4 linked regions of the Homo sapiens genome follow. The main gene of each other region encodes a partner of the protein of the gene in region 4 in a complex. Each region holds a gene or a part of one and is shown on either strand. Other genes may lie near its edges. A codon is read from its position in the direction of its gene.

Evidence for each region.
Region 1: GPAA1 (region 4) and PIGS share a complex: the UniProt entries of both Homo sapiens proteins name them as parts of the GPI-anchor transamidase complex.
Region 2: the proteins of GPAA1 (region 4) and PIGT are in contact, whole or in part, in a cryo-EM structure (PDB 7W72), measured with the Homo sapiens proteins. Residues at the interface, in NP_003792.1 of Homo sapiens: Arg97 (codon at 2,211), Ser98 (codon at 2,208), Val99 (codon at 2,205), Gly100 (codon at 2,202), Glu102 (codon at 2,196), Tyr104 (codon at 2,190), Arg134 (codon at 1,887), Ala135 (codon at 1,884), Pro136 (codon at 1,881), Arg137 (codon at 1,878), Ala138 (codon at 1,875), Ala139 (codon at 1,872), Ser140 (codon at 1,869), Thr141 (codon at 1,866), Glu142 (codon at 1,863), Arg171 (codon at 1,776), Gly172 (codon at 1,773), Gln173 (codon at 1,693), Ile174 (codon at 1,690), Tyr199 (codon at 1,615), His200 (codon at 1,612), Asp201 (codon at 1,609), Val202 (codon at 1,606), Leu212 (codon at 1,483), Gln213 (codon at 1,480), Gly214 (codon at 1,477), Arg215 (codon at 1,474), Ala218 (codon at 1,465), Arg311 (codon at 1,104), Tyr312 (codon at 1,101); in NP_057021.2 of Homo sapiens: Gln91, Gly92, Phe93, Arg95, Arg97, Tyr98, Ser108, Phe211 (codon at 6,611), His212 (codon at 6,608), Thr213 (codon at 6,605), Ser214 (codon at 6,602), Asp247 (codon at 5,958), Phe249 (codon at 5,952), Ile250 (codon at 5,949), Arg340 (codon at 5,473), Gln355 (codon at 4,739), Tyr357 (codon at 4,733), Val358 (codon at 4,730), Ser359 (codon at 4,727), Gly360 (codon at 4,724), Tyr361 (codon at 4,721), Gly362 (codon at 4,718), Leu363 (codon at 4,715), Leu371 (codon at 4,691), Tyr373 (codon at 4,685), Lys441 (codon at 1,849), Asp459 (codon at 1,795), Pro460 (codon at 1,792), Asn461 (codon at 1,789), His462 (codon at 1,786).
Region 3: the proteins of GPAA1 (region 4) and PIGU are in contact, whole or in part, in a cryo-EM structure (PDB 8IMX), measured with the Homo sapiens proteins. Residues at the interface, in NP_003792.1 of Homo sapiens: Gln245 (codon at 1,384), Leu310 (codon at 1,107), Arg311 (codon at 1,104), Arg313 (codon at 1,098), Phe358 (codon at 851), Leu359 (codon at 848), Ile371 (codon at 812), Ala389 (codon at 591), Leu390 (codon at 588), Trp393 (codon at 579), His397 (codon at 567), Leu500 (codon at 15), Ile504 (codon at 3), Leu508, Cys512, Leu515, Thr516; in NP_536724.1 of Homo sapiens: Tyr349, Ile355, Phe356, Cys360, Ile363, Val364, Leu367, Leu368, Val371, Leu372, Leu375, Ile377, Tyr378, Ala379, Gly380, Ser381, Phe386.

The regions. Positions count from the first base shown.
Region 1 is NC_000017.11:28,568,520-28,575,940, forward strand, and holds the start of PIGS (GPI-anchor transamidase component PIGS), read right to left. Parts: upstream 3,006-7,421; 5' UTR 2,978-3,005; coding exon 2,944-2,977; intron 2,670-2,943; coding exon 2,530-2,669; intron 2,445-2,529; coding exon 2,333-2,444; intron 1-2,332. Other genes in the region: ALDOC (fructose-bisphosphate aldolase C), read right to left, coding at 5,007-5,102, 5,216-5,415, 5,548-5,722, 5,975-6,058, 6,177-6,337, 6,433-6,487, 6,604-6,815, 6,902-7,013. UniProt on the Homo sapiens protein: Component of the glycosylphosphatidylinositol-anchor (GPI-anchor) transamidase (GPI-T) complex that catalyzes the formation of the linkage between a proprotein and a GPI-anchor and participates in GPI anchored protein biosynthesis.
Region 2 is NC_000020.11:45,418,951-45,426,150, reverse strand, and holds part of PIGT (GPI-anchor transamidase component PIGT isoform 1 precursor), read right to left. Parts: coding exon 7,172-7,200; intron 6,857-7,171; coding exon 6,756-6,856; intron 6,679-6,755; exon of another isoform or gene 6,648-6,678; coding exon 6,561-6,647; intron 6,016-6,560; coding exon 5,928-6,015; intron 5,820-5,927; coding exon 5,722-5,819; intron 5,624-5,721; coding exon 5,458-5,623; intron 4,769-5,457; coding exon 4,568-4,768; intron 1,936-4,567; coding exon 1,770-1,935; intron 1,656-1,769; coding exon 1,572-1,655; intron 642-1,571; exon of another isoform or gene 578-641; coding exon 325-577; 3' UTR 1-324. UniProt on the Homo sapiens protein: Component of the glycosylphosphatidylinositol-anchor (GPI-anchor) transamidase (GPI-T) complex that catalyzes the formation of the linkage between a proprotein and a GPI-anchor and participates in GPI anchored protein biosynthesis.
Region 3 is NC_000020.11:34,673,955-34,681,213, forward strand, and holds the start of PIGU (GPI-anchor transamidase component PIGU), read right to left. Parts: upstream 3,139-7,259; 5' UTR 3,132-3,138; coding exon 3,002-3,131; intron 1-3,001. UniProt on the Homo sapiens protein: Component of the glycosylphosphatidylinositol-anchor (GPI-anchor) transamidase (GPI-T) complex that catalyzes the formation of the linkage between a proprotein and a GPI-anchor and participates in GPI anchored protein biosynthesis.
Region 4 is NC_000008.11:144,078,490-144,085,633, reverse strand, and holds the start of GPAA1 (GPI-anchor transamidase component GPAA1), read right to left. Parts: upstream 3,001-7,144; 5' UTR 2,904-3,000; coding exon 2,830-2,903; intron 2,511-2,829; coding exon 2,331-2,510; intron 2,246-2,330; coding exon 2,134-2,245; intron 1,921-2,133; coding exon 1,773-1,920; intron 1,696-1,772; coding exon 1,594-1,695; intron 1,501-1,593; coding exon 1,304-1,500; intron 1,222-1,303; coding exon 1,025-1,221; intron 913-1,024; coding exon 759-912; intron 592-758; coding exon 496-591; intron 346-495; coding exon 155-345; intron 62-154; coding exon 1-61. Other genes in the region: EXOSC4 (exosome complex component RRP41), read right to left, coding at 5,033-5,392, 5,485-5,691, 6,735-6,905. UniProt on the Homo sapiens protein: Component of the glycosylphosphatidylinositol-anchor (GPI-anchor) transamidase (GPI-T) complex that catalyzes the formation of the linkage between a proprotein and a GPI-anchor and participates in GPI anchored protein biosynthesis. Binds GPI-anchor.

The sequences.
Region 1 (7,421 bases), on a different chromosome or scaffold from region 4:
TTACTATTTCCGTCTAACAGATGAGGAAACCAAGGTTTAGAGAAGTTAACAACCTTACTCAAATTTACACAAATAAGTGGCAGAATAAGGCTTGAATTCCAGCTCTCTGATCCCAGATTCTATACTCTTGGTCACCCTTTATACGTGTTGCCTATACTATACGTTTACAGTATACCCATATTACTGAACACTGTGTTATCAAATATGAAGAAATCCATGATAAACTGAAAACAATCAAATTTCAAACTAACTTGTGAGGGATAGTCCAATTTTTGTTTAGAAAACAAGAAGTTTGGCTGGGCATGGTGGCTCACGCCTGTAATCCCAGCACTTTGGGAGGCCGAGGCTGGTGGATCACTGGAGGTCAGGAGTTTGAGACCAGCCTAGCCAACATGGTGAAACCCCGTATCTACTAAAAATGCAAAAAATTAGCTGGGCGTGGTGGCAGGCGCCTGTAATCCCAGCTACTTCAGAGGCTGAGCCAGAAGAATCGTTTGAACCCAGGAGGCAGAGGTTGCAGTGAGCCAAAATCGTGCCATTGCGCTCCAGCCTGGGCAACAAGAGCGAAACTCCATCTCAAAAAAAAAAAAAAAAAAGAAAGAAAACCAGAAGTTTGTGTGTGTACAGAGGCTGAACCATACGAAATATCATTTTTTTAAAAAAATGTTTTAACCAGCCGGGTGCGGTGGCTCACACTTGTAATCCCAGCACTTTGGGAGGCTGATCACTTGAGCCCAGGAGCTCGAGACCAGCCTGGGCAACATGGCGAAACCCTATCTCTACTAAAAATACCAAAACAAATCAGCTGGGTGTGATGGTGTGCGGCTGTAGTCCCAGCTATTAAGGCAGGTGGGCTGAGATGGGAGGATCGCTTGAGCCCAATAGGTCAAGGCTGCAGTGGGCCCTGATCGTGCCACCATACTCCAGCCTGGGCAACAAAGAGAGACCCTTTCTCAAAAAAAAAAAAAAAAAAGAAAAGAAAAGTTTTCACCAAGGCTAAAGAACTAAAAAAGTAAATGGCACACAGATGCCTCATGCTCTAGACTCAGCCCAAATCTCCAGTCATTCCCAGTCTTTCACTACACATTCCAGTAAGGCAAAACTGCTCATAGGTCCCCCAATATGCTGATTCACCCCGCCACACTTTCACACAGGAGTATAGTTTGTTGGTTAAAAGCTTGAACACTGGAATCAGTCAGGCCTGGATTTAAATCCCAGTTCCATCTCTTACTAGCTGTGTGACCTTGCACAAGTTAAATTCTCTAAGGCTCAGTTTCTTCATTTATAAAATGGGGATCATATCATTAGAAAGGATTAAATGAGGCAACACATATAAAATGCTTCACCTAGTTTCTGGCACACAGCGAGCAACAACTATCAGCTATCCTTATACTGTCTCATGCTATTAACTTTGCCTGAAATTCTCTCCCTCCTTTTCCCACTTAACCTGAATTCCTACACATCCTTTAAAAATCCGACTTAAGAATTACATCTCTCAAAACTTTCTCTGCCTTTCTTTCCTCCCAGATGGTTAATACTCTTTACTAAGTGCAATCTCTGTTTCTTGTATACTTCTACTGTAATTTATTTTATCTTTCTCCCCTACCTATGAACATCTTGAAACCATTATCAATTTCTTATTCATTCCTAAATTCTTGGTACCTAAAAAAAAGTACCCCAGTAAAGTGTTTAATGTTAAACTGAATAGGGGCTGGGCGCGGTGGCTCACGCCTGTAATCCCAACACTTTGGGAGGCTGAGGCATGCGGATCACCTGAAGTCAGGAGTTCGAGAGCAGCATGGCCAACATGGCATAACCCCGTCTCTACTAAAAATACAAAAATTAGCTGGGCGTAGTGTCGCGCGCCTGTAATCCCAGCTACTCGGGTGGCTGGTGCAGAAGAATCGCTTGAACCCAGGAGGCAGAGGTTGCAGTGAGCCAAGATGGCGCCACTGCACTCCAGCCTGGGCGACAGAGCGAAGCTCCGTCTCAAAATATAATAAATAAATAAACAAACAAACTAAATAGGGCCTATATGCAAATCCAATTTAATTTCAAACTCTGTGTTCTTTCCACTATATCCCACCTCTTCCCCTATACCCTGATGGGCATCAACTGCTTCCGATTAGGTAGCCTGTCTTACGAGTAAAATTGCTATTTAGTGACTGTGAATTTGAAAGTAGTTTTTTTCTGACCAAACACACTGTTCATTCAGAGGTCTTTCAACAGTAAGTTTTTAACTGCGTTTATGGTACACCCCCGCTCCTCCCACCCAACTCAGCTCTGAACTGAGCTCAGAGGCGAAAAGCAGCCCTGATCCCCAGTAACTCACATTTCAGAGGAATCTCTCTTTCATGCACAACGGTGAAGGGCAGCTTCTCCTGGTCGTCCAGGGGCACTGACTCCCGCGTAAACACGACAGTGACAGGCACCATGAGGCGGAGCTACAGGAAGGAGCATCAGGGCCGTCACTGAGTCTCCACCTTGCCGGGGGGGCTGTCCCCCGACCCTCCCGCACAGCAGTCTCACCTGAAGGGCATTCAGGCCACTGATCTGGGAGTAAGGCAACGAGGCCCGGTAGGTCTCCGTGGTCTTCCACCAGAGCGGTAGCCCCAGCACGATGGCCACCGCAGCGAAGAAGAGGGCGGCGCGCTTGCCCCGGGCCACCTCTGAGGGCATGGGGAACCGACTGAGGCGCTGGAAACGGGCTAGGGTACCGGCCCCATCCCCGACGCGGAGAAGCCCCAACCACCGGCCTCCAGGGGCCCGCGTTCATTGGGATCTCCGTGCGAAGGGACCCGGCCCAAGCCTGAAGGGAATCTCGTCTGAAGAGACCCCCGAGCCCCCCGTCCGCGGGACCTCTCGCACACCACAATCCCCACCCCTGCTATTCCTCCCTTGCCATCAGCTAGCTGCAGGCCCCCCACCCGAAGCCCACCGCACCTAGGTGTGTAGCCGCAGCCCCGGCGGCCGCCATGCTAGCTTCCGGCTGCTCCGGCCACCGTGGGGGCAGAGCTTCGTGAGCCTCACCCAATCGGAATCTCTGCAACGAGGGGGCAGGACCGCGGCGGTGATCGGGGCCAATCGCGAGCGCTACTCCAGACCCGCAGACGGGAGCAAGCGGGCGAGGGGTGGGAGGGCTCCGCTGGGAGCTTCGCTGGGGATCTGAAAGGAAGTCACCCGGGCGCGGAGGGACAGCCTAGGGGCCGTGCGGGTTTCGGCGCTGCTGGAACGAAGTTCCCCGCTTCCCTGTAGAACACACTTCTAGCCCCGCAATCAAGAGCGCAACCTCTGCAGTCCTTAAATACTAGCTGGGCAACTACAGGCAGCTCCGAGGCTCATCTGAAAATGGAGATATTTACATAAATGAGGCCGTTCTTGTAAGGAGCCTGGCACACGGAAAGCCCTCAACGTCAACTGTCACGGTCTTATTATCCTTATCGTAGAACTCCTCTTAGGGTGCCCTCTCCTCAAAGCCTCAAACACGGAGGTAGCAAGCTAGTATGTTTTAGCACAATTGGCTCTCTCGCTATTTTAAAATACGTTTTAATTCATTTCCAACTTGGAAAACTCAGAATACTTCACTTAAAAATCTTGAAAAGTCATGAGCCCAGACTCTAGATGCTGATCACTGCGGTTCAAATCCTGGCTTCATCACTTATTAGGTGAGTGATCGTGAGAAGATCGTTCTGTGCCTATCTGTGCCTGTTTTCTCTATTAAAATAGGGATGATAGTAATAGTACCTACTTTATAGAGTTGTATGAAATGTGTCAGTACATATAAAGTGATTAGAACAGGGTTGGTGCTATGTGCAAGCTATTTTTGTTATTATAAAGTCAGGCCACACAGGGTGGAGCATTTGTAGCCTCCCCAGTTGACACAGAACACACGCAGCTTGTTATCTCTTCTTTTTATCTGCTTAGACCCAGGTTCTCAGCCTACCTCACAACCCAGCCCAGTGGTTAAAGTTCAGCATCAGGCCTCACCAGAGCTGTCCTTACCCAGACCCTCCAATTGGCTCCCTTTGTGCCCACTTCTACCCCAAATGAAAATGGGCCATAGCCCTTGGCAACCTCCTAGATGCCCTGCTCAGCCCTGGCAGCCCGCAGAGCCTTGGTTTTCCTCTTTGGGCGGGAGTCCAGGTGCTCGCTTGCCCTTACTGGTGTGGCTCACCCTAGTGGAAGGTACCAGGTCCCAGCTGGGCTTAACACTGCGAGATGGGAGAGACTCCCACCCACTCTTATCCCAGCCTGTCTTGCTGCCTCCCTGCTTTGAGCCTTGCACAAATCTGCCTTCAGGAGTTGCCAGTTTGGCCTCACTCCATACTTCTGTAGCTGCAGCCCAGTGCCACTGATGTGGCAGTCCCTAGAAGACTTGCAGTCTTCCTCATTGCCCCACTCCAGACTTGGACATCAAGAGAGCAAGAGCCTGAGCTGGGGATGGTGACTGCATGTGCCCTTCCTCCATAACTTGAAGCCCAGTAAGACTCAAATCCCACCCTCTCCACCTCCAGAGTCAGAGGGCCCAGAGATAGAATTAGCAGAGATCAGAAACTGGGAGGTGGGAATTTGATGTGTAAAACAGACAGGCAAAGTAGAATGTTTTGCTACCATTTATTTGCTGTATGGTATGTACTCAAGGCATGAGTCAGGGCTTCTGTACTACCCTCTGATCCCAGGAGACAGGGCAGGCAAGAAGGAGAGCCCAGGGAGAAGCTACCTCATCATGGGAAAATTGTGGGAGCTGGAAGAGGTAGGGGGAGACCCAGCCATCCTGTTCTGACTTCTAGCAATTTCTTCTGCCCTCAGTCATGAGGGGCTCCCTATCCTCCCATCCTATGGTCCCAGGTGCAGCAATGAGAGAGGGGAAGGGAAGAGAGAAAGGAAGACAAGTTGGTGCCAGGTGAAGGCATCTCTGCTCTGCATAGCTATTTGGCCCTGGCCATGACTACAAGCAAAAGTGGGTGCAGATGGCTGGGCCAAGGGCTGTGGTATGGAGTGGATACTCAGTAGGCATGGTTGGCAATGTAGAGTGACTGTGCTGCTGCTCCACCATCTTCTCCACTGCCTTCATACTTGCCCTGGGCTGCAAGCCCATTCACCTGCAAAAGGGAGCGTGGAGTAAGCAGGCTGAGCCAGCCCACAGGTGCCAAGCCCTGCCCAGGCTATAGCCTCTGGGTGCTGCCCCCACCCACCACCACCTGTAGCTCCCAACCTCAGCCCGCTTGATGAACTCCTCAGTGGCAGCCCCAGCATTGTCCCGTTGCCCTCGCCAGGCATTGAGTGCAGAGGCTTGCAGGGCACGCCCATAGGAGAAGGTAAGCGCCCAGGGTCGGGGAAGGGGGCAGCGGTTGATGGCATTGAGGTTGAATGATGCCTCTTCTTCGCTCTGACCCCCAGACAGGAAGGTCACTCCTAGTGTGGAGGAGAGAAGACAAACTGACTGGTCACTCCCAATTTTTCCAGGATAGGGAACCCCTGAAGGCCACAAGAAGGACCTGAAGATGGGCCTTAGGGATAGGAGCAGGTTAGGGAGCTGGGTAGTACCTGGGACAGCTGGGGGCACAGTGCGACGCAGGGCAGTGACAGTTGCCATGGCAATCTCCTCTGGGGTATACTTGATGGGACAGGCATGGCCCGGGGTCACCATGTTGGGCTTGAGCAGGGTCCCCTCCAGGTATACATGATGGTCACTCAGGGCCTTGTACACAGCAGCCAAGACCTGGGTGGGGATTAGAGGAGGTTTACTAAGGGTCTGGGCCCCCACTGGTTACTGCTCGATGCTCCCTATGTAGGGGTAGATGGGCACAGACTGTGAGGGCTCAGTACAGGCTCAGATCACAGGCCTGTGCCGGGATGAAGTGAAAAAGTGCTAGGGGAAAGTGTGCCTGGATCTAAGCTGGGGGTTCTGGGGAACAGACACTCCTGCCGAGCTGTCCCTGCAGTATGTTTGTGTGCCCAGGTGTGGACTCACCTTCTCTGTAACATACTGACAACGTTTGAGGTCGTGGTCTCCATCAGGCAATATTTCAGGTTCCACAATAGGCACAATGCCATTCTGCAGGCAAGAGCAGAGATGCTTGGGAGGGGCAGTAGGGGAGATGAAGAAAGCCTTGTGACTCTCTCCCCACCAGGCATACAGGGCACCTAGCTCACCACCCTCCCAACACACACACCTGCTGGCAGATACTGGCATAACGGGCCAGCACGTTGGCGTTCTCCAGAATGGCAAGTGCAGAGGGTGTACGCTCACTGATTTTCAGCACACAGCGCCACTTGGCAAAGTCAGCACCATCCTTCTTGTATTGGGCACAGCGTTCTGAGAGCCCATCCAGCCCTGCAAGCACAGTGCCAACCTCATTACTCTGCCCCTCTTTTACCAGCATCAACTATCTAACACCTCTTTGGTCCTCAAGCCCACCCATCCTATACCTTGAGTGGTGGTTTCTCCATCAGTCCCAGCTAGAGGCACCACACCCTTGTCAACCTGTAGAGGAAGTACAAGCAGAGGGTTGAATCCAGGCAGGATTCTCCTTGCTACCCCTCCTACACAAGCTTATTTTCACACCCAGCTTCCATTCAGAGCAGGGCCAGGGGCTGCACCTTGATGCCCACGACGATGCCCTTATCCTGGATGGTTCGGACGAAGGGAACACCATTATCATCTTTCTGGTAGAGGGTCTCATGGAAGAAAATGACGCCTCCAATGCACTTTTTCACACGGTCATCAGCACTGAACAGGACCTGGCGGTACAGCCGGCGGTTCTCCTCTGTGTTTTCCACCCCAATTTGGCTCAGCCGCTTGGCCATGCTGCCTAGGGGCAAACAAAGAGAGGCAGTGAGAACATCCCCAGGGTCCCCTAGCCACCTGTACCCTACCTGGCTACAGATGTCCACTTACCTACAGACTCATCCGCAGCCAGAATGCCTTTGCCCGGGGCTACAATCCGCAGGGCAATGTCAGACAACTCCTTCTTCTGCTCAGCAGAAAGGGCTGGGTACGAGTGAGGCATGGTGACAGCTCCCTGGAGTGGAGACAAGATAAAAAAGCCAGACCTCACCCTCTGCTGCCTCTCCTGGCCAGATGGGCCAAATGGCCTCCCCATCAAGCAAGGGGCTGGGAACAGGGCAGCAGTCCTTGGCATGAGTCCTGGGCATCAAGTGGCACCAGTCCTTCTGACAGCTAGCAAGCTTAGGGCTCCAGTTCCCACATCTCCTTTTGTCCCTGGTAGGCATCCTTCCCAGCCCTGGGGAAAGATGCAGGGTGGGGGTGGGGAGGTGAGCAGCCCTGAAGCCACAGCTCTTCTGATAAATCTGCTGCCCAATCAAGGATGCCAACCCTTCTTTCACTGAACTTGGTCCCTTGTTGAGGTAGGCAAAAGTCCTGGCCTTTCCAGCTTCCCTTTTCTCATCCTCCACAG
Region 2 (7,200 bases), on a different chromosome or scaffold from region 4:
GTGCTGCCAGCCGACCTTTCTGTGGTGATGGAAATCTTTTTCTGTGCTGTCCAATACAGCAGCCACCGACCACTTTTGCTTATTGAGCACCTCAATATAGAGGTGGCCACTACAGGTGAGGAAATGAATTTCTAAGTTAATTCAAATTCAAATGCCACATTTGGCTCGTGGCTCCTGTACTGGACAACACAGCTGTAGGCCCTGACCTGGTCCAGGGCACTTTGGTTCAAAAGCCAACTCTGAGGAGAGCAAGTGGCAGAAACAGCCCTTGGGCTCCCCTCCCCAGAGAGAAACGGCAGCTGCAGCTGCTGGAAAGGGCAAGAATCAGAGTGGGGGGACACCTCGGGCGCGCCGGATAAGGTTGGCCAGCCGCTTGGCCAGGCCACCTGTGCGGGGCTCCTCGATGTGGAAGGTTCGGGTGAGGAGATTGTAGAAGGAGCCATAGCACACGGCCACCACAGTGCACGTGAGGCAGATCACGTTGTAGGGCATGCTGAAGTCCGGTGTCGGCAGGTTCACCAGCAGCGGCTCCGTGTAGAGCCGCACAAAGTAGTTAGAGCCATCAGAGACTGGGAACCTGGGGTCAGGGGAAGAGCGGTGAGACAGGACTGGCTGCTCCTCCCCATCTCACCCCATCCTCATTCCGGCAGTATTGGGCAATGCAACACAGTGTTTCCAATGTTCTCTTAGGCTCAAAACCTTTCAACAGAAGGCATAGCTCAATCTCTAAACCTGATAAAGGGGAGCGGCGGGCGGGGGGCAAGGGGAGGGAGAGCATTAGGACAAATACCTAATGCATGCGGGGCTTAAAACCTAGATGATGGGTTGATGGGTACGGCAAACCACCGTGGCACATATATACCTATGTAACAAACCTGTATGTTCTGCACATGTATCCCAGAACTTAAAGTAAAATAAAAAATAAATAAGAAAGAAAGAAAGAGAAAGAAAGAAAGAAAGAAAGAAAGAAAGAAAGAAAGAAAGAAAGAAAGAAAGAAAGAAAGAAAGAGAAAGAAAGAAAGAGAGAGAAAGGAAAGAAAGAGAGACGCCTGGTGTTGAGGTGGAGGAAAGGGGCCCCGCCTTTGCTTGGTTGCTTCTTTCTTAGCCTGGTTTCAGCCTAAATGCCACCTCCTAAATGAAGCCTTCCTAGATAACCCAGTAAATCAATTCCTACCCAACCTCTAACCCCATTACTCTCTAGACCAGAATCTTCCTTCTAGACTGTAAGCAAAGGGAGGCCAGGGCCAAGTCTGTTTTGTTTAATCTTGCACACTCAGTGCTCTCAGAAGCACTTGGCATTTGATAAGTGCTTGATTAAATATTTAAGAGCATCAAGAAGTAAATGTAGGCTGTAAGTAAAAGTATTCTTCTAGAAGCACTTTAAAATCATTTTATAAAGTCTTCACAAATTCCACAGACTGCCAGGATTTTTATTAGGATTGAATTAAATCTACACATCTCTTTGGAAGATGTAACATCTACCCTGAACTCCCCTGCAGGAGCCTGGTCACCTGTGTTAAGGCCCAGCAGGCAGCTGAGGATGTGTTATCAGTGAGTGTGGTCACACTTACAGGCTGTTGAAGAGGGGACTCTCTTCCCAGTCCACTGGCTTGGCTGCTACCATGCTGGGCACAAGGGCGCTGAGGACAGATGGGCTACAGAGAAGCAGAGAGATGGCCCGTGTTCCCATCTGGCTGCCCTATCAAGGGGTAAGCAGCAGAAAGGGTAGGTCAGGGGGATGAGAGGTGGCCTGTGGGGGTGGAGCCCACCTGACATAGAAGCCATGGTTAGGATCTGGCGTGTACTCGGTCCACTTCAGCAGCGCCCGCTCAAACTGGATGGAAACCTTGGTGACTGAGTTGGCCGGCAGCTGAATCAGCATCTCCAGGAGGTGGGGTTGCAGCCGGTCCTGGGCAGGCTGGTAGTGGATGTAACCTGGAGACATGCAAGGTCACCCACATCTCTTTCCTGGGGTCAGGCTACCTGCTGCCCCTGTCCCTGCTGCTTGCCATGGAGCCTCAATCTGGGTGCCTAGAAGATGGGCTTGGGAGCATAGAAGCCAGGCAGGCAAGGGAAGAAAGCAGGGGCTAAGAAAAGGGAGAGGATGTTTCCAGGGCAGTGATCCCAGGATGCGATCAAGAGAGGTTGTTAGGAGTGCTGCAGATGGCTAATCAATCTTCACATCACTACAACTGGGGCACCAGACACCAAGTGCCTGATGTGACGCAAGAAGAAGTTCACAGAACCACCTGGGAATTTTTCTTGCCAAAAATGTGGGACATGAATCTAATCAGGTTTCTAAATCTAACCACCAACACACAAGAAATATAGGAGAGGAGGGGTGTGTTAAACACTAGCACAAGGACAAACCCAGAATGTGGAACATTCTACACAACAAATGACCCAGTTTCTTCAACAAATAAATGACATTAAAAAAAAAAAAAAAAGGCATGGGCACTGCTACAGATGAAGAGAGACTGAAGAGTACCACACCAAAGACAAGACATTTATAATAAGGGACATTCTGGGTGTGGAGACAGGGAGTATATGGGAACTCTGTGCTTTGTGCTCAGTTTTTCTGTAAACCTAAAACTGCTCTAAGAATAGTCTAGTAATTTTAAAGAAAAAGAAACTTTTTTTTTTTTCGTGACAGGGTCTCACACTGTCGCCCATGCTGAAGTGCAATAGTATGATCATGGCTCACTATAGCCTTGACCTCCTGGGTTCAAGTGATCCTCCCACCTCAGCCTCTTGAGTAGCTGGGACTACAGGCGTGCAACACCACCCCCAGCTAATTAAAAACAATTTATTTTAATCCCAGCACTTTGGGAGGCCAAGGCGGGCAGATCACAAGGTCAGAAGATCGAGACCACCCTGGCTAACACAGTGAAACCGCATCTCTACTAAAAACAGAAAAAATTAGCCAGGCGTGGTGGCACGCGCCTGTAGTCCCAGCTACTCGGGAGGTGGAGGCAGGAGAATCGCTTGAACCCGGGAGGTGGAGGTTGCAGTGAGCTAAGATCGCGCCACTGCACTCCAGCCTGGGTGACAGAGTGAGGATCCGTCTCAAAAAAAAAAAAAAAAAAAAAAAAAAATTTTTTTTGTATAGGTAGGGGGAGCCTCACAATGTTGTCCAGGCTGGTTTCGAACTCCTGGACTCAAGTGGTCCTTCTGTGTTGGCCTCCCAAAGTGCTGAGATTACAGGTGTGCACCACTGTGCCCACCCAAGAGAGGAACTTAGTATAAAGCAAATGCAATGTGAGAACCTTGTTTATCCCAATTTAAACAAACCAATTATAAAAAGACATTTTTAAGACCACAGGGGAAAACAGAAGTGGTAATGATACGGTTACATTTTTAAAAATCCTTAAAGTATTTAAAGGTTAATTGATGCAATGTCTAAGATTTGCTTTAAGATATGCCAGCAGGCAGCGGCTTACACCTATAATCCCAGCACTTTAGGAGACTGAGGCAGGAGAATCGCTTGAGGCCAGGAGTTTGAGACCAGCCTGTGCAACATAACAAGACCCTGCCTCTGTGAAAAAATTAAAGGCATGGCGGTTCATGCCTGTAGTCCTAGGGAAGCGGAGGTAGGAGGATTGCTTGAGCCGAGCAGTCTGAGACTGCAATGAGCCATGATCATGCCACTGCACTCCGGCATAGCTGACAGAGCAACAGTCTGTCTCTTAAAAAAAAAAAAAAAAGGCTGCAGGGTGTGTACAGGGGATTATTACACTATTCTGTTTGGGTTTGGGTTTGAAATTTTCCAAAGGAGAAGATTTAAAAGAATAATAACAGAAAAACCTATAGAATATGCAGTTAGGATGTCTGAAATAGAGATTTTGAAGGTGGTACAAATAATGGTGCTGAAAATAAGTGAAACTATTCACCGTATGTTTGAAAATATAGGAATCAACTAAAGTACTGAAAGGTTTTTAAGTTTGGCCGTTTGGGATATGGTACAACCTCTTCCTCAGAGGTCTTTTACTTTACTACTAGTCTCCCCCTACACCAAAGAAAGGCAAGTGCTTTAGTGCTATGCCTGGCACCTAATAGGAAGCACTAATATTATCTTCTCCTTAGAAAAATAATAGAAAATAAAAATAAATTTTAATAAAAATAGAAATAAAAAAATTTAATTAACTGTACCTCTTTACCCCTCCCAAGGAAGCAAAACACCATCTACTCCAGCTCTGCTATCTTCCTAGCTTCAAAAGCCTAACGTTGCCAAACCCTTTCCCTACCTTAAAGAGTCTATGAATCATCACAAAACCCAATGCTCCAGAAAGGAGGCAAAAGTAAGTGAAAAAGGAAGCTACTGTCCTTGTACAGTCCTATTAAGAATCACCAGTATTATGTGTTTTAATTATTGCTGTTTTATAAATTACTTCTGAACCTGGCACAGTGAGGCTCCCGTTCCAGTTTTGAGAAACTATTCCTTACTCTTTATGCCTGTGTAGCTTTTCAGAGGTACTTCAGGAACTACCCTGGGAAATGAGAGTTTGGGGGACCTGGAGAGGACATGAGAGGGCGGGCTGGGGGCCTGGTTCAGGACTCAGGTCCTCACTTGGTTTGTTCTCCTTGCCCTTGGAGGTGATGGTGAGGGTGTGCACATACAGCCGCAGATACCAGGGTACGGTGTCCAGCAGCAGCACCGGGAAGGCCCGGTATGGGTGGGTGTTGTACAGCAGTGTGCTCAGCTCCCCCTTCTGCAGCCCATAGCCACTCACGTACCGCTGGGCATGCAGGAAGGGCACTGGGGGGGCCTCTGTGTAAAGAAATATCAACAGTTAACAGCTGCCAAAGGTAAGAATCACTCCCCACCCCACCTGCCCAGGCCATGTTCAGAGTCCCAAGCCAGTGAGTAGATGGGGAACAGCCCTGCCACTGAAACTGGGCAATCTGGGTTCTGGAATCATCCCTGTCTTCCCCAGCCAACAAGCGATGATGACAATAGGTTGCTAGTATTGAAGTGCTTACGTGACGAACACCGTGCCCCCTTCGAACCCAATCCAGGTCCTCTCAGGATATTCTGCTCTTTCCCTTGGTAAGGGAACTGAACACAACTGTAATTAATTAACTGACACCTGCCCTAGCTAGTAGACTTATATTTCTTGAGTGCAGTGTCCTCTGTCTTATTCAACACTCTATGCCTGGCACTTAGTATGAATTCAAAAGTATTTGGTTGATTAAGCAAATGCATGAACTAACTCCATTTTTCACATCATCTCATCCAATTTGCTAAGTATACTCTATTTTTCAGATGTGGATGCTGAAGCTTGGGGAGTTTAGGAACCTACCCAAAATCGTAGAGCTTGGAATAGCTACAGTCAGCAGCATATGACTCTGGAAATCTGGTCTAAATACAACCCAATCATCTAACGGCAAAGACGTGGGATTGTGAGTCTTTTCTCTGTAGCCGTTGCAACCCAGCAGTCCAACCAACCACCCACTCACCATTCTCTGGGGGTCTCTTCCACTTGAGCTGGATGTTGAGGTTTCGAGAGTTGTTGATCATGGCGGTGTCAAGCAAGTCATAGATGGCATAGGTCTTCCGAGTGCCTAGGATGACGTCCTGATATGTAGTGGTCGGGGGTGGGTGCACCTCTAATGTCTCGTTGTCCTGGGGACACAAAGGCAGGGCTAAGAAGCAAGCAGAGAGGGTAGGCTGGTCCTGGGGACCAGCGGTGTGTTTGTGTGTGTGGCTGGAGACCTTGTTACCTGGTTGTAGGTGGTGATGTCCACATAGACTCGGCTCTCTGAAGCCAGGGGGCAGGGCTCCGTGAGGGTTCGGGAGAACATCCGGAAGAGGGACCAGTCTGAGAAACAGAGCGCAGGGCTGAGCAGGGGCCAGGCCTAGGCCTAGTCCACATAGATAAGGCAGGGCTGGCATGGGTGGGTACAGATGAGTTGCCAAGGTAACTTACCTTTCTTTCCCTGCCCCGTGATGAAGGCATCAAATACAACTGACAGGGTCTGCCTCAGCTCCCAGGAGATGCTAGTACAGCGTGCATTCTATCACAAGGGCCAGATGGCAGCAGTGAGGGGGTATCACTCTCACCACACAGCCCCCAAAAAGACTCCTACTCAGACTCAATCCCTCATCTATGTATCTTCACATCCATCGATTTGCTACCACCCACTCCTGAGCACTTGACCTCGTGCCAGACCCCGTGCTGACAGCTGTATGTGCATCAGTTTGATAAACTATCACAACAACCCTAGGAGTGGATTCTACTATCAATGTCATGTGGCAGGGTGGGAAACCAAGCTCAGGGGAATGAAATGATTCACCCAAGGTTACGCCAGCTGGCAAGTGACTGAGCTAGCAATTGCACCCGCATAGCTATTGTTCTGAACCACTATTTTCCATGACAAATATTTATTCAGTGCTTGCTAGGCAACCACTGTTTTCTTGGTGCTTGGCCAATGCCCTGAATAACCGTCATCACATCTACCACTCAGTACTCACTCAGCCTGAGCCAGACACTGACCACATGCTTTACATGTACCTTCTCTGAGCCCCTGGATGGCAGCTTCCTCTACTCCCCATGACTTACTCTGCAAACAGGGCGGATATGCACTGCCTGGGAGTGGTAGCTGGTGTGGAACAAGCGATCTGCCTTCAGCAGCACAGAGAGGCCTGCCTGGAGGAGATGGAAAGAGATAAGAGAAGCCCTGTATGGAGCACTTGGCATGGGGCGCAGGTTCTCTATACACCCCCCGCCCCCGGCTGCCAGGCTCTGCGGCCTCACCTTGGAACTACAGGGCAAGAGCTTCTTCCAGGGGGTGAGGTTTTCGGTGCAGACCACCTCCCGCGGCAGCACAGCATAGCGCAGAAAGTAGTGGTCAGTGTCTGAGGGAGACAGAGGTCTGTCTGGGGTGGGCCTTGGGCTCTGACCCCTCGGGATCCACATTCCAGAGATGGGAATGACCCTCCTGCTCCCCACACCACCTCTAGCACCACAGTCTGGACAGTCCCAACTGGGAGTAGGACTCCCTTCTCTCCTTGGGAAAAGGCATGCAGAGATGGCACAGTATTGGGGGCCTGCACACACAGGGGACTTAGGATCTAGCCCAGGCTGAGGAAGCAGGAAACTGAGGGAAAAGGAGGCAAAGGTTTGGGCAGGAGGTAAGAGGAAGAAGGAAAGGGCTGTAGGGGTTATCTCACCATTGGCCAGACCCAGGGGTTTGAAGGAG
Region 3 (7,259 bases), on a different chromosome or scaffold from region 4:
AGGCAGAAGAATCGCTTGAACCTGGGAGGCAGAGGTTGCAGTGAGCCAAGATCATGCCACTACACTCCAGCCTGGGCAACAGACTGAGACTCCATCTCAAAAACAACAACAACAAAAAAAGCTTGGCGCAGTGGCTCATGCCTGTAATCCCAGCACTTTCACAGGTCAAGGCGGGCGGCTCACCTGAGGTCAGGAGTTTAAGACCAGACTAGCCAACATGGTGAAACTTATCTCTACTAAAAATACAAAAATTAGCTGGGCATGGTGGCGGGCACCTGTAATCCCAGCTACCCAAGAGGCTGAGACGAGATAACAGCCTGAACCTGGGAGGCGGAGGTTGCAGTGAGCCGAGATCGCGCCATTGCACTCCAGCCTGGGCAACAAGAGCAAAATTCTGTCTCAAAAAAAAAAAGAATTCATACAGCTTATAAGTTGCAGAACTAGAGAAAGAGTCAAACCTTTTCTGAGATTCCAGACCCTGCACTCTTAATTACCAAACAACACTGTCTCATCTTTGGATCCTTCACCTGTCCATCCTGTAAGTAACCTCCTGTAAGTAACCAGATCCTATGCTTTCTTCTCTTCCACATTTATTCAACAGTAACTACACACCTACTGTATGCCAGACATAAAAGAATTCAGGAATGAATAAAACAGAATCCTTCAAGGAGCTCATAATATAGTGGAAAAGGCCAGGTGTGGTAGCTTATGCCTGTAATCCCAGCACTTTGAGAGACCCAGATGGGCGGATCACTTGAGCCCAGGAGTTTGAGACCAGCCTAAGCAACATGGTGAAACCCCATCTCTACAAAAAATACAAAAAAATAATAATAATAACAAGTAGGGTTGGTGGTACATGCCTGTAGTCCCAGCTACCAACTACTTGGGAGGCTGAGGAGGGAGGATGTCCTGAGCCCGAGAGGTCAAGGCTGCAGTGACCCATTATCACTGCACTCCAGCCTGAGTGTCAGAGTGAGACCCTGTCTCTTGAAGAAAAAAAAAAAAAAAAAGAGGCCAGGCATGGCGGCTCACACCTGTAATCCCAGCACTTTGGGAGGCCGAGGAAGGCAGATCACCTGAGGTCGGGAGTTCAAGACCAGCCTGACCAACATGGAGAACCCCTGTCTCTACTAAAAATACAAAATTAGCCAGGCATGGTGGTGCATGCCTGTAATCCCAGCTGCCCAGGAGGCTGAGGCAGAAGAATTGCTTGAACCCAGGGGGCGGAGGTTATGGTGAGCCGAGATCGCACCATTGCACTCCAGCTAGGGCAATGAGAGTGAAACTCCATCTCAAAAAAAAAAAAAAAAAAAAAGAGAGAGAGAGAAAATGTGGAAAAACCGGATATAAACAGGTAATTATGAGATAAGAAATGCTCTTAGTAGGGTGTAGAGGAAGAAGGGCCTAATACTGCCTCAGGTTTTCAGTTATCCAGAAGAAAACAGGAACCAAATGGCTTCGATTCATTTCAACAGAAAAATAATACGCAGAGGTAACAAATCCAAGCTCTTACAATCTCAGACATGAATTATTACTATCTTTATTACCATTCCCCAACTAGGAAACCTGGGCAAATTAACTTCTCTAAATTTCAGTTCCCTCATCTGTAAAAGGGGGAAAATAACACCATCTATCACATAGAAATAAATGTGAGGACTAAATGAGAAAAGGTATATGTTACCATTTTTAGAAACCTTAACTCTATTCATAAAACACCCATTCATTATGCCGTTCCCCATACCAACATTCTATGGGATAACATCAAAACGTTAGCCTTGGCCAGGTGCCATGGCTCACGCCTGAAATCCCAGCACTTTGGGAGGCCAAGTGAGACTGCTTGAGTCCAGGAGTTCCAGACCAGCCTGGGCAACATAGAAAGACCCTGTCTCTAAACAAAAAACAAAAACAAAAACAAAAAAACTTTAGCATTTAAAGGACACAAAGGGGACTTCTGGGGTGCTGATACTGTTTCTTGAACTAGGTGCTGGCTACATGAGTGAATACAGTTTTTAAAAATTCATTGAACTCTACACTTACTTAATATGCATTGTATGTATACTGTACTTCAGTAAAAAAAAAAAAAAAAAAGTTGTTTGTTTTTTTTTAATCATCAAACTCTGGCCTAAACCTAGCTTCCACCCCATTACTCCCCTGCTTTGGACATTTCACATCCTTGAACGTTTCTTCATCCTATTTACTTTCTGCTACCTGGAACTCTCCTTTTCTCTAATCTCCCTTTCAAAACCCTACATCCTTCAAGAGTCAGCTCAAATCCCACATTCTGGAAAACTGGAAAGGTAGGGGATAGTTTATTCAGGGTCAGAATACTAAGGAAGGAACTGGGTGGACACATAAAGTATACTTTTCATGAATTATTATAACGATTTGTCTCCCTCACTAGCCTGTGCAGCTACTTCAGGCCAACTTCGCTTTCTCGCTGTAGGCGTTAGTATAAAACAATGTTCGGTGAAGAACTTAGTAAGGAACAGTAACAAAAATTGCCCTGCAAGTCCCAGACTGAGAAGAGACGTCTAAAGCACACGCACACTCTCCTCGCTTAAGCAAAATTGGTCCCCTCATCCCGGACCCCCTCACACATAACCTTTTATCCCAGGGAGCACCCCTGGCGATCCCGCCCCAAATCCCAAACTCCTCTGCAAGCCGCGCTCCACAAGCACCTCCTCCTCTTATTCCAACCCTTCCCACAGACCACACTCCTCGGCTCAGGACACTGAATGGGACACGCCCCCTCAGATCCCCACCACTAGGTGGTCCGGCCCCCAGGGCCCAAACCTCACGACACTGTCCCCACGCCCCGGTCCCCACGCCCCCTCCCCTCACCAGCCCCGCCCTCAGGCCCCGCCCTCTCCAAGAACCCCACGAGACAGTCAGTTAGTTCTCTAGGAACCGCGCGCTGGCGGTCACTGCCCCCGCCTCCCATTCACAGAGGCCGCGGGAGGGCAGGTGGGGCCTGACAGTCTGCTCGAGCCAGTGGCCTCACCTCTCTTCCAAGAGCTCAGTGGGGACACCACCTCCACCCGCTCGGAAATGAACTCGGCCAGACTGGAGCGGAACAAGGCCGCCCGCACTGTCACAGCCACCACCAGCACCAGGACCAAGGGAGCCGCCATGATAACTGGGGCGGGCGCGCGGGCGGGGAGGGAAGGCGAGGCGGAGGAGCCTCGCGCGCTGTGCGCCACGCTCTGTAGTTCCGCGGGTGGGCGCGCGCTGCCGCTGGCGCCGGAGAGGCCAGACGTGGGGACTACGGCTCCCAGAAAGCCTTGCGGCGAGGCGGGCCGGAGCGACGGAAAGCGGGCGCCTCAAGCTGCGTATGCAGAAGGTGGGGCGAAACCTTCTACGATCGCAGGTGTTTTGTGAAGCCGCGCCGCTATAGCGGGGCTGAAACGCTGCTGAAAGTAGAAGCGGAAGTAGTCGCCTTCCTGGGATTGTGAGAGACTTTTAAACAGATGTTAAATTCACTCTTGCGTGTATGTTTTCAATGCCAAAATGTTTATTTTTATTTTTATTTTTATTTTTTTTGAGACGGAGTCTCGCTCTGTCGTCCGGCTGGAGTGCAGTGGCGCGATCTTGGCTCACTGCAACTTCCGCCTCCTGGGTAGCTGGGATGACAGGCGCCCACCACCACGCGCGGCTATTTTTTTTTTTTTTTTTTTTTTGTATTTTTAGTAGAGATGGGGTTTCACCATGTTGGCCAGGTTGGTCTCGAACTCCTGACCTCAGGTGATCCGCCCGCCTCGGCTTCCCAAAATGCTGGGATTACAGGCGTGAGCCACCGCACCCTGCCCAAAATGTTTATGTTTTTTGTTTTTGAGACAGGGTCTCAGTGCCGTCGCCCAGGCTGGAGTGCAGTGGCGCAATCTCAGCTCACTGCAGCCTGGACCTCCCGGGCTCCAGAGTAGCTGGGACCACAGGTGCGCGCCACCACACCCGGCTAAGTTTTTGTACTTTTAGTAGAGACGGGGTTTCGCCATGTTGCCCAGGCTGGTACCTTTTATGTTTTTAAAGAGTGTTAAATGTGTATTTTTTAAAAAATTTATTCTGGCAGTTGTTTGTTAAACGCCAACTATTTTCCAGGCACTATGTTAGGTTCTACAGATGCGTTTTGGAGTAGTAGACTGATTTATTAGCTAGTTCAACAAGTCGCTTAACCCTTGTGTGCTGAAAAATGTGCTGATTATAGGCTAACTAGGGACAGTTGAGGAAGGCTTAGAAATTTTTTTTTTGTTTTGGAAACGGAGTTTCGCTCTTATTGCCCGGGTTGGAGTGCAATGGCGCGATCTCAGCTCACTGCAACCTCCGACTCCCAGGTTCAAGCGATTCTCCTGCCTCAGCCTCCCGAGTAGCTGGGATTACATGCATGCGCCATCACGCCCGGCTAATTTTTTGTAATTTTAGTAGAGACAGGGTTTCTCTATGTTGGTCAGGCTGGTCTCGAACTCCAGACTTCAGGCGATCCACCTGCCTGCCTCGGCCTCCCAAAGTGCTGGGATTACAGGCTTGTGTCATCGTGCCTGGCCGGAAGGCTTAGAAATTTTGCCAGTCGCTTTTAAACACAGGCATTTTTGAAAATTAAGACATATAAACCTACAGTTAAATAACTTATATTGAAAACAACGGAATACATATTCAACACGTCACTTTCTAATTATTTTACTACACTTTTTTTTATATGTGCTTTTGAGATTATTTACCACCGCTGTATCAGTACAGCAAATACTATCTCTTTCTCTTCCCAAATGGTGGTGTTCAGTTTCCTCAGGTTGATAGATTGAAAATCCCTCCCAATGCGAGTGTTTACACCACAGGAATCAGCAAACACTACAAATCAGGGGTTTGGGGTTTGGAGAGCCCATTGATAAGCATTAAGCAGCACACTTCATTAATTAATGTATAGTAAGTGCTTAAATATTAGCAATAATAATATTAAATGTGCAAGGAAATTTCATATTTGTGAAGAAAAGGAAACAGGCTGGACGCAGTGGCTCACGCCTGTAATCCCAGCACTTTGGAAGGCCGAAGCAGCCGGATCACTTGAGGTCAGGAGTTTGAAACCAGCCTGCCCAACATGGTGAAACCTCGTCTCTATTAAAATTACAAAAATTAGCCAGGCATGGTGGCCTGTGCCTGCAGTCCCAGCTACTCAGGAGGCTGAGGCAAGAGAATCACTTGAACCTGGGAGGCGGAGGCTACAGCGAGCCAAGATAGCGCCATTGCACTCCAGCCTGGGCGACAGAGCCAGACTCTGTCTCAAAAAAAGAAAGAGAGAGAAGAAAGAAAACGAAACAGTGTATGACTGAGAATAACTGCTGGTGTAATAATAAGGGTGGTAACACTAGACAAGGTGATCAGGGAAGACTCTAGAAAGAGGTGATATTTGAGCTGAGACCTAAAGGATGAGAAATTAATCAGAGCCTCCAAGCAGAAGGAACGGACTGAGTGGGGAAAGAGCAAGGTATGTTTGAGGATCAGAAAGAAAACAAGTATGGCTCAAGTGGAGAGAATAGAAGAAGCTGTGGATGGAGAGACGGGGGGCAATCAGGTAGGGACCTATTGGCCATGCTTGAGAATTTGGGCTTTATTCAAAGTGCAATCCATATGCCATTGGAGAATTTTAAACCAGAAATGATGTGAACAGGTGTACATTTTTCAAACATCTCTATATTCCCACAAGCCCTCTATTGGGTGTTGGGGAATATTGCAGTGACAAAATGGCACCATCTGCCTTTGCCCTTATGTAACTTGGAAAGCAGTTGAAGAGATAAAATAGTTAAAGAATAACATAAGTAAAATCACAAACCATAACTCCAGCCTGGGCGACAGAGCAAGACTCCGTCTCAAAAAAAAAAAAAAAAAATCACAAACCTTAATGAGAGAAAGAAAAGGGGGAGTGGGCCAGGCGCAGTGGCTCACGCCTGTAATCTCAGCACTTTGAGAGGCCATGGCGGGAGGATTGCTTGAGCCCAGGAGTTTGAGACCAGCCTGGGCAACATGGTGAAACCTGTCTCTACAGAAAACATAAGAATTACCCAGGCATGGTGGCGCATGCCTGTAGTCTCAGCTACTGGGAAGGCTGAGGTGGGAGAATCACTTGAGCCTGGGAGGTTGAAGCTGCAGCGAGCCAAGATCACGCCGCTGCTCTCAGGCCTGTACGACAAAGCAAGACCTTGCCTCAAAAAAAAAAAAAAAGAAAAAAGAAAAAAAATGGCCGGGCGCAGTGGCTCACACCTGTAATCTCAGCACTTTGGGAGGCCGAGGCAGGCAGATCACTTGAGGTCAGGAGTTCGAGACCAGCCTGGCCAACATGGTGAAACCCCGTCTCTACTAAAAATACAAAAAATTTAGCTGGGCAAGGTGGCGGGCACCTGTAATCCCAGCTACTTGGGAGGCTGAGACAGGAGAGTCACTTCGACCCGAGGATCGGCGGTTGCAGTGAGCCGAGATTGCACCACTGCACTCCAGCCTGGGCGACAGAGCAAGACTGTCTCAAAAAAAAAGAAAAAAGAAAAAGAAAAAAATGGGAGTGGGATTCTAAAAGAATGCAAAAATAAACCCTGGGGCTGATAGCTTTCTGGACCAGTGAAAGGGGTAGGGTCTCCTTTGGGGGAGGGGATCATGAAGAAATTAGAGGGGCACTCATCCTTTGAGCCCCTGCTGTGTGCCAAGTAGTGTACCATATGCTTAACACACATGAGCTTATTTAGTCTGCACAGCCTTCCTTCTTAAAGATGTGGGTTTTTGTATCCCCTTTTACATAAAAGGAGATATATGTGTTGCATCATCTTACAGTGAAGTGTATTACATCATAAAAAGTGGAAGTAATTGTAACACTAACCTCATAGTGAATATTGAGCAAGGTTATACAATGTAAAATGCTTAGCACATACCCAGTGCTCAGTAAAGGTTACTTAGCTGTTATATTATTTACATCATTCTAACAGATGACTTAAAAATTTATCTTAGGGTGAGGATTGTCTTTGGGAAAAACAGTGATTAGCCATTGTAGACAGATGTGACCCAAACCAGTGGTTCTCAAAATGAGTGTGCATGAAGTATGAATACAACTAGTGGTTCTCAATAAAAAAACACAAGACCCAAATACAGAAGCTAGAATTATAAAACTCATAAAAGAAAACATAGGAGTAAACTTTTATGACCTTTAATTAGGCAATGGTTTCTTAGATAACAACACCAAAAGCACAGGCAACAAAAGGAGAAATAAGTAAATTGAGCTTTGTCAA
Region 4 (7,144 bases):
GATCAGGGCTACCAGCTTCAGTGCCATCCAGCCCCTGTCTGGGGCCTGTGTGCTTACCACCCTGTAAGACAAAGGACTCAGAGGCAACCCACAAGCTGTCTGCATGTCCAGGGGACCTCTACCCCTGCCCCCAACAACCAGCCCAGCCTCTTACCGGTGGGTATTGTGGGGCAGGGCCAGGCCAGCTGCATAAATCGCCAGCAGTGTCAGCACCACAGCCTCAGCCTCTGCCACTGGGAAGTGCTGGGTGGCAACGTGTTGGCCCAGCACTGGCAGGACATAGAGGGCCAGTCCCATGGCCTGTGAGATCAGCAGAGGTGCCACGAGCGAGGCCAGCCCCACACCCTGCAGGGCACACAGGCTCTTGGAGATGGACCCTGGGGCCAGGGGATCCCCAAAGACCACCACCATCCCACCAGCTGAGGCTAAGTTGCAACACTAAACACCAGTCAGACCCCAGAAGCCCATTCCAACAACAGAAGGGGGTGCCATCACCTGTGATGGGGGAAGGGGTACACTGGGGCCAGGGGCACCCCCGGGCTCCTCAAGGCCCATTCCAGCCTCATGCAGCTGCATCCACAGTTCCAGAGCGTAGCCCAATCAAGGACCCCAACAAGAGGTGTAACGGGATCTGCCCAGAGGGGGACCCAGGGCTCACCCCCGTACCCCACCCCCCATCAGGATGGAAGACTCTCCCCAGCCTAGAGTTGAGGAGACTGGAGGCTGGTCACAGGTAGATGGCAAGGGGCAGAGGATATCTTGAGACCAAGGACCAGGAGCAAGAAGCCGACAGCGGGCATGTAGAGGCCGATGGAGACGAAGCGGGAGAGGCCGGGGAGCAAGTAGAGGAAGAAGGACTGGTGCAGGCGCTCCAGGAGGTGGTTGAGCTTGCGGAACATGCCCTCCAAAGCCCTGTCAGGTGTGGGGCAGGTTCACGGCTGGCCAGAGCCACCAGGCCATCCCCCACTCCGCTCCAGCTAGACCCCATCCTGGGCATGGAAAGGGGGGACCAGAGACTACTTACTTGCCCACTGCCACCAGGTCATACTTGTACTGGCGGAAGCTATTGATGCCACGCAGGGTTAGGGCCTCCACACGGTAGCGCAGGAAGAGGCCATGGGAGCCGTGGGGGCGGCCGGAGGCCTGCCGCAGAACCATGAGCAGCAGTGTCTGCAGGCCCTGCAGCGGTCCATCCAATGATGTCCAGTCCTCGGGCTGCAGCTTTAGAGGTGCAGGACAGGATGAGACAGCCCCTCCCACAGACCCTGTGCCCTTCAGCCCTCAGGCAGGCAGGCAGCCCCACCTTGCCCTGAAGCGTGCACAACAGGCCCCCTTTCTGGCAGAAGGTCTGGAAGAGATTGAGCAGGTCAAGGTTGGGCAGCTGCCCGTTAAGCCCCTCCACGGCCACATCGAGGCTGGTGACCACATCACTGCTCAGCTCCAGGGCCACGGCTGCCTGAATGGCCCCAGCTCGGCCCTGCAGGGGAGACGACTGCATGCCTGTAGGAGCAAGTGAATGAGTGCTAATGGAGGACGTGGTGAGGACAGTGACCCTGAGAGGGGGACCAGGGCAGGCAGGACAAGAGAACCTACCAGTGACATTGACATCGTGGTAGGCTTCAAGCCAAGCCTCAGTGCCCAGAAGGTCATGTTCTGTTACCAGGAAGACGATATCTTTGGCCCAATAAATCTGCCCTGGAGGCCAGAAGCAGGATCAGCAGGGTCTGGGGCACTGACCAAACCCCTCCACGGCCAGCAGCCCTGAGACTCACCCCGGAAGTGGGCAGCCAGTGCCAGCAGCAGCCCCACAGCCTGGCTGTTGGTAGAGTCAGAGCCACAGGGCACGGTGAGCACAAGCGACTCGGTGCTGGCAGCACGCGGGGCCCGCAGGATGCCGTACACGTTGGTGCCCGACACCATCTGTATGCAGCATCGGTGGGGGGAGCCTCAGTGTAACTTTGTGGTAGGGGGCTGAAGGGCCCCCCACAACTTTCCTAGCCCTCCAGTGCCCACCAGGGATTTCCCTCCCACTGAGCTTCCTGGCCCCATGACACCCCCGCAAGGTGATACCCAGCCCAGACCCCTCCCTCCAAGGTGCTTTCTGGGCCCAGGCACACCCCACTCCCCCAGTACATAGCGCTCGTGGGTCTCATCTGGGAAGGGCAGTTTCCGGGAGAAACTCTGCGTGTAGACCTCCAGCCCTACTGACCGCATCGTCCGTTCAAGCCAGGCCACTGGCAGAGCCCTGCAGACACGAAGGGAGCCTCTGAGCAGAGCTCCCCGGCCTTAGCCACCACTGCTCGCCCCATACGCCCTGCTCTGCCGCTCACCCCGACTTCTTGCGGTGGGCGGCGAAGTCCCGGGCAAAAGCCCGGGCACGGTCTCCGCCCGCAAACTGCTCCTCCACCATGGTGGAGCCCATGGCGTTCTCCGACATGTAAGTGCGCTGGGTCAGCGGCGGGAAAACCAGCGCCAAGAACCAGGCGATGCCCGCCACGTAGCTCAGCACGCTGTGAGAGAGGACGGAGGGGCACCGGAGCGTCAGCGGGTCCTCAGACGCCGACCCGAGGCCACAACCTCCGCACCCGGGGTCGATCGCGCGGGTCTGGGAGACCTAAACCCGGAGTCCTGCATCGGGACGCCGGACCCGAGCCCTAAGCCTGGGCCTGATACCCTCAGTGCTTCCAGAGGGCAGGAGCGGAAGGGCGCGAGCAGCCGGAGGGGCGCGAGCAGCTGGAGCGGCCCCGGCCCTCGATGGGGACCGCGCATGGGGCCGCCGGCGCGAGCCCAGGGCCCTCGGGTCCCCGCCTCCCCGGGCCCTGTCCTCACCACAACGGCGCGTTGAGGCGCAGCACTAGGCGGGCGAGCGCGCGCCGGCGAACCGGGTCCGACAGGAGGCCCATGGCGGGGCAGGGCGGCGCGGCTACGGACCCTCTCCCGCCTCCAACTACCGCCGCGGTGCCCACAGGCTGCTCCTGTCAGACCCGGGGACCCGCGCTCGCCCGCACTTCCGGTCCCAGAGACGCTCGCGACGGCGCGCATGTCCAGAGCAGAGGGCGCGCCCCTAACACTGTGTGCTGCCGGCGCGCAAGCGCAGAGCCGCGGCCGGCTGGAGGGTGGGCGGTGCCGGTGAGGCCGGCAGGACCTGAGCGGGTTTGGGAGTCCGCTAGGCGCTGCCCCCACTAGAGTCGGACTCGCAGTGCACCCCCCGGGAGGGAGGCAGGTAGCCCTACAGCCGGAGGACAGCAGAGATGCCCGACAGCAGGCCGAGCTGGTCGGGGGCTGCGAGATAGCGCCGGCTGGAAGGCCCGCAGGAGTCAGAGGTGATGAGCCGGGCAGGTGGGTGGAAAGCCGGCGGCGGTCAGAGAATGGATGCCAAGCGAGACTGCCAATGACTCAGGACGTCCCAGTGGAGTCACAGCGTGAGCCCAGCACCGAGGTTTTCAGAGTCAGATGACTGCAGAGAAGATGCTGATGGCACTACTGGCCAAAACGGGCTTCACTGGAGCTGGGGTGTGTGCATTATAAAGTGGGGGATCATACTGTCACTGTCCGGGCCAGGAGATCCGTGGAATATTAGGGGAGAAGCAGTCCCAGGGTCCAGACTGCAGGGACTGGTAGTCGGGGCTCGGTGGGCCAGAGGTGAATGAAGGGGGAGTTTGCTCAAGAGGGTGCACTTTGGGAAGGTGAGGTGGGTGGATCCTTTGAGATCAGCCTGGACAACGAAATGAGACCCAGTCTGTACACACAAAAAAATTCCTTTTAAATTAGCCAGGTGAGTGGGGCATGCCTGTAGTCTCAGCTCAGGAGGCTAAAGTGGGAGGATCACTTGAGCCTGGGAGATCCAGACTGCAGTGAGCCGTGATCACACCACTGCACTCCAGCCTGAGCACAGAGCAAGACCATGTCTCAACAAACAAAATAGTGGTGGGCAGAGAGAAGGGTCAAAGCTGAAGACTCCATGTGAGAACAAGTTTTTTTTTGTTTTTTTTTTGAGACAGAGTCTTGCTCTGTCACCCAGGCTGGAGTGCAGTGGTGTAATCTTGGCTCACTGCAACCTTCAACTCCTGGTTCAAGTGATTCTCCTGCCCCAGCCTCCCTAGTAGCTGGGATTACAGGTGCCTGCCACCACACTAATTTTTGTGTCTTTAATAGAGATGGGGTTTTACCACATTGGCCAGGCTGGTCTCGAACTCCTGACCTCAAGTGATCCATGAGAACAGGTAATTTTTGTACTTTTATTTTTTTTTAGATGGAGTCTTGCTCTGTCGCCCAGGCTGGAGTGCAGTGGCACAATCTCGGCTCACTGCAACCTCCGCCTCCCAGGTTCAAGAGATTCTCCTGTCTCAGCCTCCTGAGTAGCTTGGATTACAGGCATGTGCCACCACTCCCAGCTAATTTTGTATTTTTAGTAGAGACGGGGTTTCGCCATGTTGGCCAGGCTGGTCTCAAACTCCTGACCTGAAGCAATCCGCCTGCCTCAGCCTCCCAAAGCTCTGGGATTACAGGCGTGAGCCACCATGCCTGGCTGTTGTACTTTCAGAGCCCAAGGTAAGCAGCAGGAAAAGCCCAGGGGGCTCCAAACCATAGTCCAGAGGTTGTGGGACATGGCCCCCACATCCCTAGGGTGGGTACCCAGAGCCAGCTGAGTTCTTCCTCAGCCCTTTGCTCAGGGCCCCCGATGTGCTGGAATAAGGGTAACAGATTCCTCAGTCTAATGGCCTGGCTCATCTTGCCAGGCCCTGCCTCCTGCTCAGCTGCCTTGAGTCCTTACTGGGACATGCTGCTTTTTCCACCCAGGGCCTCCCCTACAGAAACCCCCTAATCCACTGTTCTCTTCAGGGTTTGAATCAGGCTACACAGAGATAGGCCGTTCATGTGTGGGCGAGGGTCCCTAATCATCCCCAGGAGCCAGCACCAGACCAGGCTCTGCCAGCCTTCACATGGCTCTGAAGTGCTGTTAGGTGATAACGTACAGTGAGGGGTGTGTGGGCAGAGGAGGGTTTTATTCTGGACATGGGTGGCTGGGTGGTCAGTCCCCCAGCAAGATAGAGGCCTCACGCACATGCTGCCGGACCACTCGATCTAAGAGGGTGTGCACATCTCGGGCAGCCTGGGCAGCAGCCTCCAACACCCGCTCCAGGTGGTCCTCGTGCAGCCGGGCATCCATCTCAAGCAGCGCAATCTGTCCTGAGGCTGGCAGCAGGGCCAGGGCCAGCTGGGGGCCACCAGCTGCTTCCTCCACATGGCTGAGGTCCGCCAGGGCTGTGCCGTCCACGAAGCCAGCTGAGCACGCACACACAAAGTCTCTCATGGGTATCCCGGCATCCAGCACTGCCAGCGTGGCTGCATTCACACAAGCTGCATAGGTCCCACCATCTGCCTGTAGCACCTGCAGGGAACCCAGGGTGTCAGTCTATCAGACTCCCTCCCCAACCCCATCACACCCTTCCCTCCCTGGATTGACGGCTGCAGCTGGCTCACCTGCACATAGATATCAATCTGGGAGCGTGGGTGCAGCTGTGTGAGGATGGCTGCTTCGAAAGTCTGGCGGAGCTGCAGGCCCATCTCACAGGACTTACGGTCCCCATGTGGCCGTCGCTTGCGCTCACCTGTGCTGAAGGTCGCTGAACTATATTGACAGTTCACTAGGGCCCTGTCCGGCAGGGCTCGAGCCCGGGAGCCCCGGATCTGGAAGAGGACAGACACATGAGCCAGGCCCACTCCTTCCAGCTCACACTCCACTGTCCTCTGTGGGTCTGCCTCTCCCTCCACTTTCAATGCCTCAGCAAGGGGCAACTGCGTTACCTCCAAAACAAAGCCCCCTGTTTTGCGCTCTCTGTCTTGCATGTGTCGCCCTCTGGCACCTTTTAATTGGCTTCCTTGTGTCCATCCTTGCCCCATTCCCTGCCAACCCAAGTTTACAAACATCAACGCTGCTTCTGTCTCACCTACACACTCAAATCCTAACTACCTTACAAAGGTTTCACATTACATATGAAATAAGATCCCAAATCATTTCCCTACTCTACAAAACCCTAAGTCCTCACCTCCCCGGGAACCCTCAACCTGATTTGGAGTTATCCCCTCTTTCCCCACCAGCAGTCTTTCTGCTCTGCATAAGTGCCTTGCTTGTTTTCACCACCGTGGTCTTCGCCCTTCTGGTTCCCTCCGCCTGGAAAGCAGAGCTCCCACACTCATGCGCTAAGCAAACACTCTTTCAATACCTTCGCTGGCCAGGCAGTTACAGCGCTGGAAGCACAGTAATGAAACCAGATAGTTTTATGTAAAGTTCCTTTCTTTAGGAAGCTTATGTTCCAGCGAGGAAACAAAGGGGAAAATGCTTAAGCAAAATAGGCATTTGAGATTGTAGGTGCACAAAACAAAGGGTTTATTGTAGGGCGAGAAGTACCGCGTGGATAATAAGGTCGTCTGGGAAGGAGTGACGTCGGAGTAGAGCTGAAAGGAGAGGGAGCGAGTGGGGGAGTGCCTAGCACGTTGAAGAGCCGCAAAGAGGAAGGAGGGCGCAGGGACAGAGGCCGATGAGAAAGGCAGGACCACCGCGCAGCACACTAAGGACTTGCGTTTACTCCGAGTGAGATGCGGTGCTGAGCATCGGCTGTGTAGACTGAGGCGCGCCGGCCGTTGCCCCTCAAGTCCCCGAGCCAGCGCTCAGCCCGGCTGCCCCGCAGCTCCCACGGCCACACGATTCCCCATCCCGCGCGCCCACTCGCCTCGTGCGGGCCGTAGACCACAGCCAGTGCCTTGGTGTTGCCCTGCTCAATGTAGGCCGAGCCGTCAGCCTGCGCGAACACGCCCATCCGCGCCTGGATCTTGCGCAGCTCCCCGGCGCGCCGCCCGTCCACCCGGTAGCCCTGGTCCGACAAGAGCTCCAGCCCCGCCATGCTGCCCGGCCGCCAGGTCCGCTCTCTGCCTACTTCTCTGAGCCGCGGGAGAACTACAGCTCCCGGCGGCTCCGACCGCCCGGAATCTACGGTTTCCGGAGGTCCGCCATCACTTCCGGTTCCGGGGAACTACAGCTCTCCGCGGCCCTGACCTCCGTGGATCTGCGGTTTCCGGCGTTCCGCTGTCACTTCCTGTCCTGGTGAACTGGAGTTCACCGCGGCCCCGACCTCCCCGGATC